Linked DNA regions of Homo sapiens: region 2 is reported to be linked to region 1. The links are microRNA targets in miRTarBase. Many come from high-throughput screens and were not tested one by one. Region 1 holds a microRNA gene; the other region holds the end of a gene's coding sequence.

What was found. The annotated mature microRNA hsa-miR-370-5p reads CAGGUCACGUCUCUGCAGUUAC and lies in region 1 at 1,845-1,866, opposite strand. An mRNA with a match to its seed (bases 2 to 7 or 8) in the 3' UTR can be bound and repressed. Matches are read on the target gene's strand: a 7mer-m8 pairs with bases 2 to 8, a 7mer-A1 pairs with bases 2 to 7 and ends in A, and an 8mer does both.
Region 2: the mRNA of NLN is a reported target of hsa-miR-370-5p. Seed matches in the 3' UTR shown: 8mer at 2,650-2,657 and 7mer-m8 at 2,343-2,349.

The regions. Positions count from the first base shown.
Region 1 is chr14:100,909,890-100,913,016 of GRCh38, reverse strand. MIR370 (microRNA 370) reads right to left here and starts at 1,878; the gene lies at 1,804-1,878. MEG8 (maternally expressed 8, small nucleolar RNA host gene) reads right to left here. Exons shown (of 51, transcript NR_146000.1): 8 at 2,713-2,784.
Region 2 is chr5:65,822,669-65,825,742 of GRCh38, reverse strand. NLN (neurolysin) reads right to left here. Exons shown (of 13, transcript NM_020726.5): 13 at 1-2,962. The coding sequence ends at 2,828. Among named protein-coding and RNA genes, the nearest start is that of NLN, 100 kb to the right of the region's middle.

The DNA.
Region 1 (3,127 bases):
TAGTACATCCAAATACTTCTTATCCACTGAGGTCAAAGTCTTGTTTTATTTTATATAGTCCACAATTGTACACAAATGGATAAATCTTAATCTTTAGGTCATAAAACACTGTCTTTGTGGTCCATTCTTGACATTCTTTCATTTCGTCACTTTTGTACTCATCTAATTCATTTTTGACTATGCAGCCACTACACTTGAAGTCACCATTTAGCCCAAGACCAGTGACTATTCTGTATACCTGTTGATACACTTCCTACCCTCAGCCTCAACAGCCTAGAACCTGGCTTTTGTTTTGGAATAACCTCACAGAAGCAGAGACTAGAAAGGTAGTTACTAGGGGTCAGGAGTGAGAGGAATCTGGAGATCTTAGTGAGAGGATGCAAACTTAGGAGTAAGATGCAGTTAGGAGTAAGTTCTGGTAACCCAATGCAGAGTACGGTGACTATAGTTAACAATAATGTATTTCATGCTTGAAATTTGCTAAAAGAGTAGACCTTAAGTATTCTCACTGCACACATGGAAAAACGGAACTACATGAGGTGATGGGTATGTTAATTCGCTTGATTATGGTAATCATTTCACAATATATATGTATATCAAAATGTCACACTGTACAATTTAAATACAATACAAATACATACAATACTGATTTATCAATTATATATTTATAAAGCTGGGGAGTGAGGAACACATTGCCATCATTGGTACATGCTTGGCTGTCTCTGGTTTTATTTACGCATTCATTCATTTTTAACTGTTCAATCAACACCCACAAAGCCGGCTTTTATTTGTCTGCACTCACCTTCTCTGGGAGAGAAACCCCAGTGTGCCCATTCTATGGAACATAAAGCCGGTTAAAAAAAGAAAATAGCCTACGAGGCCTTTTTTGTTTGTTAATATCAGGTTACCAGACCTGGATTAGTCATAATCCTTTGCCCAGAACACATTCTCAGAATTGTTCCATTCGAGGCCTTTATTACCTTATTTCTTTATTCCTTGATTATTTTTAATAACAAAATTAATAGCCACGAACCACTCTGATTTCTTTTTTTAATGCCCCTCAGTTGTGAAGAATTAATCACCATCCCTGGTTTACAACCCACTCCCGTCCTTGCTGCTGGCATGTCTCTCTCTTCTTGTATTGATTGTTAAAACCACCCACGAGAATTACCACTGGTGGTCCCCACCTCCATCCCTCCCCCTCTCATGCCCCTGCCTCCCTCTACCTTAAACAATCACTCCCAAATCTCCTGGATACAATCCCTTTCCAGATATATATATATATAAATTTACAACATATATGTAATATATGTATTCTTAAATATTTTCCATGGGTCAGTGGCTTGCAGGAGTTTTCAGTGAAGGCTAAAGAGAAGGGTCGAGGGAGAGTGTGAAATACACAAGCTTGAGTTCAGAGTACACCCACTGCTGGGGGGATTGGTAAAAGCCCTCAAACCCAGATCACTGAGCCATCTGCACCTGCGCACACACCACGAGCCAGTGGGCCCAGTGGTTGCAGCACATATGCTCACACCTCAGTACCCACCTCCCAAATCCAGCCTCAATGCCAGACGAGCTGGGTGACATCAGCAAAGCAAACTAACGTCTCTGTGCCTGTTTCCCCATCAGCAAGATAGTTGCAGTGGGGGGTCCCCAAGCAAAGTTATGTTATTATTTTCAAGCCAATGGCAACCAGGTTAAAAAAAAATACAAAAAAACCCTCCATCCCACCTCTGAGCCCCCTCCCTCACCCAAATCTTGGCTCCCTCTGCAGCAGCGCCCGAGCTCTGGTGTTAGACAGACAGACAGACCAGGTTCCACCCCAGCAGGCACTCGTGAGCTGTGTAACTGCAGAGACGTGACCTGGCTTCTCTGTCTTGTGCCCCGACTTGTACGGTTTGTAGAATGAGGAATGCAGCGCCCTCGTGGGTCCAACCGGAGGGTGACCTGAACTATCGCCCATCCCTCAAGTAGCCCGCCTTGCACACCTGCGCACACCCCACCCTTTCCCCGTCCCATGACGCCCAGCCCACTGCTCAAACAGTCCCCAGTTTGATCAAAGAAATGAATTAGTTCAATGCTCAGATCAAGCCAAGGGTTTGGGACTCGGGCAGGGAATTGTTCGGGCATGTTCTTTTTTGGACATGGCATCAGAGCTTAAACAAATACACTGAAAAACAGAAATCCAACTAAGGGATGTGCTTTGGAAAATGAAAATTCATTTTGTGAAGTGGGACTGCCCTTGGGGAAGTCTATGCAGTGAGATTCTTGATGTTCAACTTGATTCCAAGAAACCAAAAGAGGCTTCACTATGGGCCTTACCAAAGATACACAGCCAGTTTCCTTCTTACCCCTCCCCCCAGCTTGTCCTGGGTGTGTACCACCTGCCACAACTGGCCTCAGAGCAACTCAGGGACCTGAAAATAATTCTATATATTATATAGAGTTATGGTGTAGGTGTATAACGTCATTTACACATCAATCTGTCCATTGGGGGACTGTCATGAGGGAGTCGTGGGAAGACCACCAGTGTGGGGACCTGCCCCTGCCTTCTTCATACTGTGAGGCCTTGGAGAAGGCCTGTCCCCTCCCTGAGCCTCAGGTGGCGATCGTCCCACCAGCCTTTCCTCCCTCCTAAGTGGTGTGAAAATGAAAAGCATAACATTTTAAGTGCAAGTTCCCTCCAAGCAGCAGGGATCATTAATATTGTACCTCCTGTACCCAGCACGTAGTGTTCACAGCATGCCTCAGCATACATTATCTCGTTTGATTCTCACAACAGTCCTGTGAATTAGACATAATAATCATAATTAGCCAATATTTATTGAATGCATACTCTGTACCAAGCACCACACTGCCTACTTTGCATACATTGACACTCCTCTGGGGTGGATACAATTCAATAGTATCTCATAAATTTTTCCCCAAAATTTCTGAGCATGCACTTTGTATTGTTGCTGGGTCTAAGTGCCAGGGATACAGTAGTGAGCAAAACGGACAGATCCCGGTTCCATGAGAATTAACATCCCTGTGGGTGGAGATAGGAACAGAAAATCATCAGAAAAGGTAAGCCTAATGCATGGGATAAAAGATGGTGGTAAGAACTAGGGAGGAAAATAAAGCAGGA
Region 2 (3,074 bases), not on the chromosome of region 1:
TCTTTGAAGAGCTATTTCCTCAATTTTGGTATCTCCCACAATGCAATTTTTCATCCGAAGAGCTACAGATATCCACCTCTCACCTTATTAGCTTTAGAAAGGCAAGACCTTGGCATAAGTAGCTCAGGTGATAACTCAAGGCAATTTTTAGTTGTTTATCTAGGTAACATGCAACATTTATACTAGAGGGGGACAAAGTCTACATCAGGTGGCAAAACGTCAAGACATTTCTCTTCTCTGCAGCATCGTAAAACTAAACCTTTAGGATCATGCCTACTATCCATTTGCATAAGATGTTGAAGATTTTATCCTTCACAACATAACAATGCCTAAAAAAAAAACAAAAAACCCGAAAGAGGCCTAAATCCCCTGGATCAATTACCAGGAGAGACCTTATTATATGTGGCTCAGTCCATAAATCTAAAGTGTACATTTGTCCAATTACAATTTACATAGTTATCCACCATTTCAAGCATGTCAGTGATATTCTCTGCTCTGATCTGGAAAAAAAGAACAACTAGACGGATGACCACACTAAAAAAAAAAAAGTTAAGTCCTTTCTTTTGAATTATGCTAGAGAATTTTTAAAAAGTCCTTTCTTTTAAATTATGCTAGATAATTCTTTGAGTATTAATTTTTTTTGAGACTGAATCTCACTCTGTCGTCCAGGCTGGAGTGCAATGGCATGATCTCAGCTCACTGCAACCTCCACCTCCCGGGTTCAAGCTATTCTCCTGCCTCAGCCTCCTAAGTAGCTGGGACTACAGGAACCCAACATCATGCCCAGCTTTTTGTATTTTTGTAGAGACAGGGTTTCACCATGTTGACCATGCTGGTCTTGAACTCTGACCTCAGGTGATCCTCCTGCCTTGGCCTCCCAAAGTGCTGGGATTACAGGCATGAGCCACTGCGCCCGGGCTGAGTTTTAATTTTGTGACTGCTCTTTGGTAGATTTTAAATATTAGAGGTAGGCCCTAAATAGAAAGAACACCATGGTGCTTTTGCTCTCATGCATTTCGGTTTTAACGTTAAAGTATGAAAGAAATATGAGTTCATTTTCATGGATAATAATATAACTTTATTGTGTGCAGCCTTTCCACACCAATTTAGTTTTTCTATGAAATAAGATTTCAAGTGGTAAAGTTACTGTTAAGGAGACACACTGGAAAAAGCTGAAGAGTTTTTTTGTCTGAAACTGAAAAACAGAAAAGTCTAGGGGGAAAGATGTGAGAAAACTACTATAGGCTACAAAGACCACAAAAACAGTTTTGGGGATTAGAAGGGGGTGACATTGAGTGAGTGTGTGGGAAGAGAAGGGCTGGGCAAATTATCTCAGAAGAGGGGGTAGTAGGATTTCAGGTGGATGTTTAAGGTATTTGCTTGGCAGATATAATCTAGGAATCTCCTAGCTCTTGCATTTCCTGCTATCTGTAACTTTATTATGTAGTATAATAATTTTTTATTTAGCACAAAGTTCATTTGGACTAGAGAATCGGAAGGTGCTAATTTTGTCCCCGGCTAGCAAAGTCATACCTGAGGTATGCGCTGGAAAACAACTGGAAGACCTAGGCAGGGGAATTCAAAGTTGTTTTTTTTTTAAATTTTATTATCCTGTCTTGGTTTCCTTATTGAATAGATTTCCACAGGAAAAATACTGTGAGTTTACTGATCTGCTGCAGAATTGGAATTTAGACTCACAATAAAGAGAGTTAAAGATAGATCCAAAGGTTCACTTAAAATAAAAATCACCAGACAGAACAGGCTACTGAAGAGTCTCTTCCCCGTGGTTAAGTTTCATCATACACATAAGGCTTTGGAGCAGCTGTCCTCAAATGCTTCTATCCAAAACCCACTCCTCTTCTGGAGTTTCTGAACCCTTTATGTTCCACATCCACCTCCTCTCTCTTCCCATGGCTCTCTACAGAGCCATTTGTGACATGTCTACCTGACACTTTTGGGGACGTGGTAAGTAAAAGAGGCAAAGTCCCTAACACTTATTAGAAACGTGAGAAGAGAAAAATGTGCTTGGACTTGCTTTAGTATTCTAATTGGCACACATGCCAAAAGACTAACGATCTTGTATGCTGAGGTGGAAATGAGCCTCTAATAAAAGCTACGAAATCCTCTAATACAAGATACAAAAACTTATACATTACACCAGTCTAGCTGAAACATAATTTTTTGATACTCTTTGACTGAACTTTAGACAGAAAAGACAAAACTGAAATGGAGGAACGTAATTTAAGTGTGGCAGAAAGTTGGGAATCATGCGGCCTGATATACAAAGATAAATGCATCACTGAGGCATATTCCCCTGGCCTTGAGGTATGCAGGCAAAGGAGAGGTCACACCTTCCTGGGAGACAAAGGATCAAAGTTGACACAGAGCTCCAAGAAAATATTTACCAGAAGAATGTGATGATTCATTTATCAGTCCAGAAATCCCAAGTACAAAACTTCAAGATACAAGAAGGATCAAATTATATCATATATATGATTCAATTTAAAAATTCTTAGCCCTCTTATATCATATTATCTAGATTATAATAGTAAAAAATCAAGTTACATTCATATGAAACTTTCATAAAAAGAAATCAAATCCAGTTTTATGAAATTTTATAGTACAATTACTTTCTAGTGGGTCTTTTCTTAGGTCACAGTATTTATAATTCCATTTACATCTTTATAATTTTTAAAATTAGAAAACAAAAGGATGTCAATAGAAATCTAAATTTTCACTTGCAAAACTCCCTTCAGTTTCCAGGCCAGTAACACATGGTGATGTCGACTTGTCCTCCAGACATGGACGGCTACCAAAGATCCCCAGTTCACGGAGCATGCAGGCCTCTACTCATTAGGAACGCTTTTTGGTTTGGCTCACGTTTCAAGAAATTGTGGAGCATGTCCATGCCGTCCAGAGATCCCCCAGGTTTCAGGATTAGGTTTCTGTATTTCATTCCAACCTAATAAAATAAAACATCATACCTAATAATTCATGGTTCTAGCAATTTTCCAAATCTCTAGATGCAAAAGAGGAGAGGGTAGGGGTGAAGGAAAAAGGACTTTAGCCTTACT